Linked DNA regions of Homo sapiens: all the other regions are linked to region 3. Evidence: fine-mapped expression QTL. A gene starts in region 3. Each other region holds a variant in brackets. All regions are shown on one strand. Distances are from middle to middle. Region 1 has its middle 94 kb from the start of LINC03056. Region 2 has its middle 38 kb from the start of LINC03056. Region 3 holds the start of AVPR1A (arginine vasopressin receptor 1A). Region 4 has its middle 70 kb from the start of AVPR1A.

The links. PIP is the estimated chance that this variant, and not a neighbour inherited with it, causes the effect.
Region 1: its variant is fine-mapped to the expression of AVPR1A in whole blood (INTERVAL, PIP above 0.99).
Region 2: its variant is fine-mapped to the expression of AVPR1A in whole blood (TOPMed, PIP above 0.99).
Region 4: its variant is fine-mapped to the expression of AVPR1A in whole blood (INTERVAL, PIP above 0.99). The same link has a PIP of 0.9 or more in blood mononuclear cells.

The regions. Positions count from the first base shown.
Region 1 is chr12:63,277,945-63,280,634 of GRCh38, forward strand. No RefSeq gene overlaps it. Among named protein-coding and RNA genes, the nearest start is that of LINC03056, 94 kb to the right of the region's middle. The variant T/C (reference allele first, on the strand shown) is at 1,324.
Region 2 is chr12:63,410,369-63,413,058 of GRCh38, forward strand. No RefSeq gene overlaps it. Among named protein-coding and RNA genes, the nearest start is that of LINC03056, 38 kb to the left of the region's middle. The variant G/A (reference allele first, on the strand shown) is at 1,252.
Region 3 is chr12:63,150,206-63,152,876 of GRCh38, forward strand. AVPR1A (arginine vasopressin receptor 1A) reads right to left here and starts at 996. Exons shown (of 2, transcript NM_000706.5): 1 at 1-996. The coding sequence starts at 631.
Region 4 is chr12:63,219,733-63,222,422 of GRCh38, forward strand. No RefSeq gene overlaps it. Among named protein-coding and RNA genes, the nearest start is that of AVPR1A, 70 kb to the left of the region's middle. The variant A/G (reference allele first, on the strand shown) is at 1,444.

The DNA.
Region 1 (2,690 bases), 130 kb after region 3:
CAGTACAGATGTTGACTGTAGTTATCGCTTGAGCCTGTCATCAGTATATCACAGACATATCCCTGCCACCCAGAGATAGGTGACTCTTGCCAGTGTTTGGCCATTGTGCATAGCAGCAAGAGTTTCTAAGCTGAGTTCAGTCCCTATATGGATCTTGTTATTCTACTAGATGTCCTGATGAGATCACCAGTTTGTTGTTCAAAACAACAAAAAAAGCATAATAAAATTGTCAGTTAAATGAAAAAGCAGCATAATTAACTTGTGTAGTAATTATTTTTTTTTGCTACAATAACGAAGTACTCCAGAATGTAGTGGCTTACAGCAGCAATAAACATATATTATCTCATACGGTTTCTGTGGGCCAGGAATTCAGGAAAATATTTGCTTGGTGGTTCTAGCTAGGAGTCTCTCTTAAGGGTATAGTGAGGATGTTGGGCAGGGACATAAACATCTGAAGGCTTGGCTGAGCTGGAGGATCTACTTATTTACATGGCAGGTAAACAGGTGCTGGCTTGACAGGAGACTTTTCCACTGGGTTGCTTAACTTCCCTTATGACATTATGACTGGCTTAACCCAGAGTGAATGATCCACATCAAGAAAGAAGCCCCAATGTTTTGTTATGACCTAGCCTTGAAATCCTCACATTATAATTCCCATATTATCCTACTGGTTGCAAAGGTCAGCCTCATTTGGAGACAGTGAAAGGGGCCTATACAAGGACTTCCATGCAATGAGACAAGGCTCTTCAGGAAGTGTTTTGGAATCTGGTTACTATGATAATTCTAACATAAAATGCTATTCTATAAAAAAAAGTATTTTGTGCCTTAGCTAAATTGCTATAGTGAAAAAAAGTCACATCTCACTGTGACACATTAGTGTATTTAAGATAATTATTGAGTTGGTATTTAAAAAGAAAAATAATTTTATAAGTAAACACAAATCCAGATAATGAAGTTACAGTTATAGAAGGGTATACCTTTTGGAGTTTGCTATTTATTTTAAATAATTTAAAAGTGTGTTTATTTGTTGCATGTTGACTTGCAATAGGAATCCCTTTACAAATTTGCATCAATAAGATTTAAATTTCATTTTTTCAGCAATATGATAAACTCGGTTGTGAGAGAAACCCTTTCCAGTGCAATTTATACTAAAATGATGCATAATAGAGGAAGACAATTTGCCACTCTCTTCATTGGTTCTGAGCAGAAAGCAGACAGTATCTCCTCTTCAAATCCCTAACCACCTCTCTCAACTGGCTTGGGGCCTAAAACTACACTGCTTATGTGGCTTCCCAAACTGCAGGCCATAACTTTGAGTTACAG[T/C]TGCCCTAAGTTGATAATGTTCTCAAGTGCCTGGCGGAAGCAAACATGAACTGTCACTGAGAGAATTTGCTTTAAACACAACCTTCAAATAAGTTCCACTCATGAAATTCTAAGGAACAAAGGCTCAAAATAAGAACTTACTAAACACTTGAGGAGGCCAACTTTCCTGAGCAAAGTTCAGCTGAGACAATAAACTGCAGATTAAGGACTTCCAAGAATGCAGAGTTTAGAATTATCAGATAAAGATTATAAAATATTTAATATGTTCAAATAAGTATAAGAGTAAGTGGAAAGTAATGCTAAGAAAAAGAGACTATCAAAACTGACTAGAAAGATTTTTAAAATTAAAAACAAATAGAATTTTTGAAAATAAAAAATCATAATTGAAATTAGAAATTAAGTGTATGAATTCAATAGGAGAAATGATCAGCTAAAGAGAGTACTAGTGGACTGGAAGATAGAAGTGAAGAAATCATAAATTGTAGGACAGAGAGAGAATGAGATGGAAAACAGCAGAGACTAGCAAAAAGAGCAGTCAGAGTGATAAGGTTCAACTTAAATCTTGCAAGAGTTCCAAAATAAGAAAATAAAGAAAATAGGAAAGAGGCAGTATTAAAATAGATAATGGCTAAGAAATATCCTTAGTTAATGAAAGAAATCAATTTTCAGGTTAAAGAAGTGTAATAAATCTCAAGTACAATGAATAAAAGAGAAAAAACAAAAATCCCCAATCCAAAAGTCTAAAGTCAAATAAAAAAAACAATGAAAATGGAAAAATCAAGAGAAATAGAAAATCCAAAGTGGAAAATAAAAAGATAGAGATAAATCCAAATATGTCCATTATTATAGACAGTACAAACTAGTTAAGAGGCAAAGATTGTCAAACTGAGAAAGTCCAGTTATACATTATTTAAAAGAGACACATCTAAAACATTAAGACGTGAGAAAGTTGAAAGTAAAATGATGGGCCAGGCATGGTGGTGGCTCACACCTATAATCCTAGCACTTTGGGAGGCTGAGGTGGGAGGATTGCTTGAGGTCAGGAGTTTGAGAACAGCTTGGGCAACATAACAAAACCCGATCTCTACAAGAAATTACATAAATAACATTTTTAAAAGTAAAAATAAGAAAAGGAAAAGAAAATGATGAAAAAAGATTTACCAGACAACGGTGGAAGAGAACAGGAAAAGGGGAGGGCAAAGGAAGGAAGAGAGATTGTGGGAAAAAGAAGACGGGAAAGAGAAAAAGAAGAGGATGAAAAGGAGGAGGAGAGGGAGAGAGGGAACGGATAAGGAAGTGAAAGGGAAAGATAAAGAGAAGGAGGAGGCAGGGAAGTGTGGGGAAGAGAAAGAAGAAAGTAAATATCG
Region 2 (2,690 bases), 260 kb after region 3:
TGGGCTAGAGCACAGGAAAAAGTAGACAATAGTTCAACTTTTTTAAAGGTCCTATAGTGGAGAGAAAAGAGAAGAAACTCAGCTTGGGCTCAAACAGTGCCCTTAAGGACTTAAGTTAGTGAAAGGCCAGCGTCCTGCTAAGCCTTACCCACTTATCCTCAGCTGCTGAACTCCACCTACTCTTCCTCTTTTCCAGTGAAACCTGGCTTACATTCTTCAACATTTTAGCTGAACAAATCTATTTTTATTCCTTTTTACTTGATACCCTCAATTTCCTAAACTACTATTATTCTAATCACTGTGATATTCAGCAATATTCTGGAATTATAGCAAATTTTCCACAAATACAGAATTCGATATATTTATTATGATTTATTTCTGTTTTACATGTTTTATGTCAGCCTACAGCGTGAATAGGTTCTGTAAACAGAGGACTCGGGGGCTCAGGAGGACTTACCAGTTCCACCCCAGAAGAAGCTTAAATTCAGGAAGGCTTCAATGGGCCCAACCTGGTATCTTAGTGCCAGGTTCAGGCAACTCCTTTGGGGGGTCTTGAGTTTTCTCTGAGCCCCATATTGGGGGGCCAGAAATCAACAACAGAAAAAACAAATTCTGCCAAAATATTTAGAGGTTTGTTAATAAATAGCCTTGCTTGGCTCTCCAGTGAGTCTTTTTGTTCTGTACATTTTTTATTTAGTCACCTCCAGAATAAAAACAACAAAAACCAAACTCTATTCTGAGAACACCCAGCAAGTGATGGCCTTCAGGACATGCCATAGCTAAGGCCATGTTTAGATCTAAATCAAAGAGGAGTCTAAGATCTGGTAAGAACCAACAAGTGTGCTGTCCTTTTAGTGTTAAAACTGGGAACTCACCATTCTTTGACTGGTTGTATTACAAGAAAACAAGGTGAAATTGGCTTGTATGGTTGTCAGACTCCTTGCAACACTTGGGATATGAGTTTCTAACAGGCTATTTTGGAGAACAGAACTCTGAGATGATTTTTATATCCTTCACACTTTCTGGTCTATTTTCATCTCTGTGGCTTCTCCTTAAACAATTATAAGTGCCTGTTGGGGTAGACCCAGCTAGTAAAACGAATGTAAGATTTTGAAAGTTTTCACTTGCCAGTCAATTTCTTTTCTGGGTTCAGTGTTTACTGACACAGACACTAAAGAAATTTTTTTTTAAAGAAACTAACTGGTGTCATCTTGTCTTCACATAGACTTCTACAGCTATAGCTGAGTTTCC[G/A]TGATTTTGCTTTTTATTTTTTGCTCATTCATACATGCATAGGCAGAGTTCAGCTTTTATGCTGGTAAGAGGAATTAAACTTACATGTTTACTGAGAATTAAACTTTAAGAGAATAACAAAAGCTCTTGAAAAAAATTGAATATAACAGATGAAACAGTTTCATATTTATATTTCAACATAAGACTTTTAGTTATTGTCAGAAAGTAATGGGAATCCTTCCCATTGTTCACTTATTTAGCCTTATATAATATTCATTTAACTAAGCCCAATATCCAATATCCAGAGATTTACATTTTATTTTTAAGGGAAGACAGTATCATAGTGAGATTATTATACTGCAGAATAATAGCTTTTATACACATGCACATGCACACACACACACACAAGCTTTTTATTTATGTATAAGGTGACCATCTAATTTATAATCTTAATAGGAAAGTACTATTAAATTTTCTATTACATTTTGAATCAGTAAGTTACAGTTTTCAAGTAATTTGTCCATTTCATCTAAATTATAAATATGCTGGTGAAAAGTCATTTGTAATATTTCTTTACTCATTTTTGATATCAGACCTGCAGTGAATACCATTCTTTAATTCTTGATATTGGTAATTCATGTTCTCTCTTTTTAAAATTTTTTATTTTTAATTTTTGTGGGTACATAGTAGGTATACTTTGTCAAAAATATTTAGGGGTACATGAGATGTTTTGATACAAGCATGCAATGTGTAATAATCACATCCTGGAGAATGGAGTATCCATCCCCTCAAGCAGTTATCCTTTGTGTTACAAACCATCCAATTATACTATTTTAGTTATTTTTAAATATGTAATAAAATTATTATTGATTATAGTCACACTGCTGTGCTATCAGAGAGTAGGTCTTACTCATTTTTTCTAAATATTTTTGTACCCATTAACTATACCCATGTTCCCCTCACCTTCCCCTCCACTACCCTTTTCAGGCTCTGGTAACCATCTTTCTTCTATCTTTATGACTTCAATTGTTTTGAGTTTTAGATCCCCAAAAATAAGTGAGAACACGCAATATTTGTATTTCTGTGTGTGGCTTATTTCATTTAACATAATGAGCTCCAGTTCTACTCCAAGTTGTTGCAAATGACAGGATTTCATTCTTTTCTATGACTAAATAGCACTCCAGTATGTATATGTACCACATTTTCTTTATCCATTCACCTGTTAATGAACACTTGGGTTGGTTCCAAATCTTAGCTACTGTGAACAGGGCTGCAGCAAACATAGGAGTACAGATATCCCTTAGTTACACTGATTTCCTTTCTTTTGTGTATATACCCTGCAGTGGGATGGCTGGATCATAAAGCAGCTCTATTTTTAGATTTTTGAGGAACCTCCAAAGAGTTCTCCATAGTGGTTGTACTAATTTATATTCCCATTAGCAGTGTACCAGGGTTCCCTT
Region 3 (2,671 bases):
AGGGCTGGATGAAGGTGGCCCAGCAGTCGCGGGCCTTGGTGACATTGTTCACCTCGATCATGGAGAAGACGAAGTACTGCGGCGTGCTCAGCACGAAGCTCAGCACCCAGGCGGCCGCGATCATGAGGCGCGAGCGGCGCGCGGGCTGTTGCAGAGTCTTGAGCGGGTGGCACACCGCGATGTAGCGGTCGGCTGTCATGACTACCAGCATGTAGGCCGACGCAAACATGCCGAACACCTGCAGGTGCTTCACCACGCGGCACAGCCAGTCGGGGCCGCGGAAGCGGTAGGTGATGTCCCAGCACATTTGCGGCAGCACCTGGAAGAATGCCACGGCCAGGTCGGCCAGGCTGAGGTGTCGGATGAAGAGGTGCATGCGGGACGTCTTGCGCGGCGTCCGGTGCAGAGCCAGCAGTACGCTGCTGTTGCCCAGCACGGCCACCGCGAAAGTCACCGCCAGCACGGCGATCTCCAGTTTGGCCAGCTCCTCGTTGCGCACGTCCCTCGGTGGGCCGTTGCCCTCCCCGAGGGCTTCGGCCTCCCGGCTTGTGTTGCCAGCGCCGGTGGCCAGAGGCCACCATGGGCTGGAGTTGCCCGAGGGCCCCGCGTCGGGACCGGCGGAGAGACGCATGCTGTCCATGCAGCTCCTACTCGGCCCTCTTCGGAGCTCCAGCCCTCGCGGGCCGCTCCCTCCCCGTCTCGGAGGACTTGGGCTCCTCGTCCGAAGCGCAGGGTCTTTGGCGCGCTCGCAGCTTGCCGGGCTCTGCGATCCCTCCAGTGGGCGTCTCCCGGAGCAGCGTCCCGCCTGCCCACTGAGCAGCTCTCAGCAGGGTGAGCTGGCCCCTCTCCCTGCTCTGCCTTTTTTCAACTTCGGCGAGGTCGGGAAGGTGAGCTCCGAGCTTCCGGAAGCACTGGGTTCCCAACTCAAGTATTTATGCGGTGCTTGTTTCCTTGGGACGCGCTCCCTCCCGCCCTATTGCCGGAAGACTGCTGGTTGCCTACTCCCCGCTCCCTGGAGTTTTATTTTTTCCTCTCCCTACGTCGGTGTTTGTCCTCTGCATCACTGTGGAGGGGGTGGAGCTGGGAGACTCGCAGATTCCTCCTCACAGTAGGTGGGATCGTGGCGCTTTCCCGCTTTTCCCTTCCAAAAACTTGGACAACTGGACGAGTCATGCCTTTTCTGGGCTCGTAGCCGTTTCCACAAGCTTCCCTCACTAGCCTTCCTCGCTAGCCTCCTTAACCATGCATTTGACTTCAACAGGCACGCTAAGCGCGGTACCTGGAAACCTCCAGTCCACGCACCGGCGTCCACGCATCTAGCTCCTGCACCTGAACCTGGCTCTCGACCTCACCTCCTCCAGTCCGGGTTTCTTCCTTCTCACCGAGCTCACCCGTGCAGCAGTCTGGCAAATTTTATTCCCCAGGCAAATTTTCCCGGGGCAAACATTTCTCCCCGCTCGTGACTTAAAGAGCTATCTCTTCCTAGTAACGTCTTTGATGCATGCTATTTATTACCCTATGTTTGCGACGGGAAGAACGCACTCATCACTTTGCAGCCCCAGTGGCTGCTGTGCCTGTATTCACAGCGGGGTTTGGGGGGAGTGTCTCCTGGTTTTCTCTATGGAGACTAGGGACTTAAGGAGTTTTCTCTAGATTCCTGGGGTTTTCTGCGGGAAAAGCCTGATTCCCACAGCGGGGATGGCGGAAATTTGGCCGCAGTGGTCCGTGGGGACCGTCTGGTTACTACTGAGTCGTGGGGACATCTTTTTGGGTGGACAAAGAGCAGCTGCCGGACAGCGGCCATCCAGGCAGTGCTGTCCAGGGCAAGGGACAGAAAACCCGCCCGGCTCCTGTGCTCAGGAGTAAGAAAGAGGCAATCTCAAAGAGAGGAAAGAGGCCCTGGGAAGGAGGGGAAACAACCACCTACCTAGTAATCCGTTACTCTGAACAGCTGGAGCCCCTCTGCAGGGCGGGAGGGAGGCAGAAATGCGATCTCCCTCAGCTCTGTTTTAACGTTGGTGAAGATATGCCTCGACGGACAGCAAGGGGGAGCTGTTTTCAGGCAATTTTACAAGGAAGAAAGGAAGCCGTTTCTGCAGTTATCTGCTGTGTAGATGCAGGAGCATGACTTTGTTGGTCAGAACGTTTCAGTATTGTGGCCGTGGTATAAATTTAATTGCCTCAGAAAAATATCACCCTCTGTGAAACGTAGGCAAAAAATGCAAAAGATTTTATTCATTGCAGTTCTCAGTAATAATTCCACTTTACTATCCAGTCCGTTCATGCAGAGTTACCAAGGTTGTCACGTTGAGATGCTGGACTTGAAATCTGGAGTCCTGCTTCCTGTGGCTAGATAATCCTGGGTCTGTGCGTCTTATAAATGGAAATGAAAGGACCTGCCTTTCCTGTTGTTGAGGTCATCGGGAAGATCAAGTAAGACAATGTTCTGTATGGGGGAAATGCTCTAAAAACTGAAAGCTGTGTTGTGTTGGTTCATTTTCTCCAAGATATCCAGGAGGCAGAAGATTGAAATGGTTCAGGGATGGAAGGTAATAGGTAAAAGGTTTCCAGACCACCTGTCTGGAAAAAATCCTTCAAGCAATTAGGTAATAGTCACTGACTCAGAGAATTCACTTTCTTTTAAGTCACAAATTACACTATTAGTGCTCCT
Region 4 (2,690 bases), 70 kb after region 3:
GAAATAGAAATCATCATCTAGAGATATCCAATATAGTGTTTTGATATATATATTTTCTTTCCAGTCCTTTTTATGAATATACATTTTATTTTTTACAAAATTGAGATCATGCTATGTGTCATTTTTTAACCTTGCGTAACATCAGAAGCATTTTTATTGTCATTAAATATTCTTTGATACCATGATTTATTCTAGCCATAGAATATTTCTTTGTATACATGACTAAAATTTTTCATATTTAATTTTCTCTATTACAAGTAGTGCTGCAATGAATAGCACCAAACACAAATCTTTGTAACTCTGATGATTTCTTTAAATGACATTCCTAAAAGCTCCTAAAGTTGAAATTATTAGATCAAAAGATATGAATATGTTATTCTTTCAAATGACAAATTAACTTAGAACTCATATATGAGAAATTGTTCCTTTGTATCACTCTGTTTCTGAAGGGTTTCTATTTTGGATAATTCACTACACAAAGAAAATGTATTGCTAAAGTATCCAAGGGAAAACAAAACAATCCTTTATGGGGCCAGGTGTGGTGGCTCACATCTGTAATCCCAGCATTTTGAGAGGCCTAGGCGGGGTGGATCACTTGAGGTCAGGAGTTCCAGGCCAGACTGGCCAACGTGGTGAAACACCGTCTCTACTAAAAATACAAAAATTAGCTGGGCATGTTGGCACATGCCTGTAGTCCCAGATACTCGAGAGGCTGAGATGGGAGAACAACTGGAACCCAGGAGGTGGAGGTTGCAGTGAGCCGAGATCATGCCATTGCCCTCCAGCCTGGGCAACAGAGGAAGACTCTGTCACAGAAAAAAAAAATCCTTTATGATCTTGGGTTCCTCTTGCAGTTACCTCCTTATATGGAAGCTGTCTCTCCTGGCTGTATTCTAAATTATGTGATGCCTACCTTAAATATGAGTCTGGCTTATTCAACTTGATAATAACATAGCAGTTTAAGTTTATTCTCCACTGCTATATTTTAAATGTCAGGTGTGAATGATATTGTAGAGTGTAGAATATTTTACAAAGGTTGGTAGGTACTTGTGCCTGGTCAGCCTGATTCCTGAATACCTAACCAATCTTACAAAGAATCAAGACGATACCCAATTAACCCCTTTAAAATTGGGCTCGTTTTCTTTCTGGGGCACCCTGATTCCGATTCCATAAAAAGAGAAGCACATGCATATACCACGTTCTACAACTGCTGCCACTAGTTTCTGGTCAGATGTTCAGATGGGCCAGGATCCACTCTTCACAGGGACTTACTAGATGACTCAACACATCCCTCCTCTTTGCTACTAGTGGCATGGCCAGCCCTGCCTGGAGGGAAGATGTCAGGGCAAATGTTTCTTTCCTTTCTCAATGGGGTTGGCAATTATAGTGTTGGCATCAGAGAACTGTGTTTTTTGTACCAATCCCAACTGTGTTGCCTCCAGG[A/G]GGCAGGGTTATATACTCTGGCTGAGAGTGTTCTCTGGTGCTGGGCCACATGGGCTCATAATCTTAATTTCACTGCATGTGAATGTTACAACTGTGAGCAAACTGCTTAACCTAACAGCCAAATCTGCCTCAATTTCCTTATTCTCACAAGAGGGATCTTGATAATGGTATGTACCTAATAAGATTGCTCTGAGGAACAAACAAGATAAAACATGTAAAGAATATAGAACAGTGCCTGTTGTGTAACAAGTATAAGTATTAAGATAAAAATCAATGTTACATTAATTTTAGAAGAAAAAGAACCCATTCCTAGTTGTACCTTCAAAAACATAAATGATCTAAAATCAAGCTTCTGTGTCTTAGTTCCGCATTCATGCATGCAGTAATTTATTCAGCAAACATTGTACTCTACTTCGCACTGGGATAAGAGAAGTTAAGACACAATAAAACAGTGAGATTATACATGTAAAGAATTTAATATGGTGCTTATGGTCAGTAAATGACATTATTATAAAGATATAAATAATGTATAAGTATGTTACAAATAAACAGTCACGATTAGAGACACTGTGAATTAAAAATTAAAAATTGTTCATCTAAGGCAAAACTGATTTCAGAATAAACTTGGACCTGGAGGTGTAGATTCAGCAGAACTAAGAAACTTTCCATCTTAGTGGGTATTGTCGAGCTCAACTATTAAGGAACAATGTACATTTTAATTAAGTTGTGGAATTTCAGACCCTGAGGAAAATCTGTATGTTTGAGAAAGAAATATGGTGTTTCATTAAAAACATATATTTATTTGTTGTTATTGGCAATGCTTGGTTTGTAAGTCATTTTTGCAAGTAAACCTTGGGGTTGAAGGGAGGAAGGGAGAGGAAGCAAGTCCTCTGAGGGGAATATTCCACAGATGATTGACGTACTTTCTAAAATGAATGTTAATGGAAAGTAAAAAGTCAGAACAGCATCACAGAAGACAGCAGGCATGGTAAAGAGTACCCAATAAATTACTATCTGGTATTCTCTAAGAGAATGGAAATTTACATGGCAGAAGAAGAAAAATTTATCTGAATTCATCCTCTGTATGAATTCAACTAAAAGCTACAAATTTTATTTTTCCTTAAGACAATAAAAGAAAAATGATTATCTAATCAAACAGGAAGCTACAGAATTGCTTTGGCATTGAAATTTAAGGATGAGTTTAGATTAGTCAAAGCAAATCAAATAGAAATTTCCAAAATGTGATA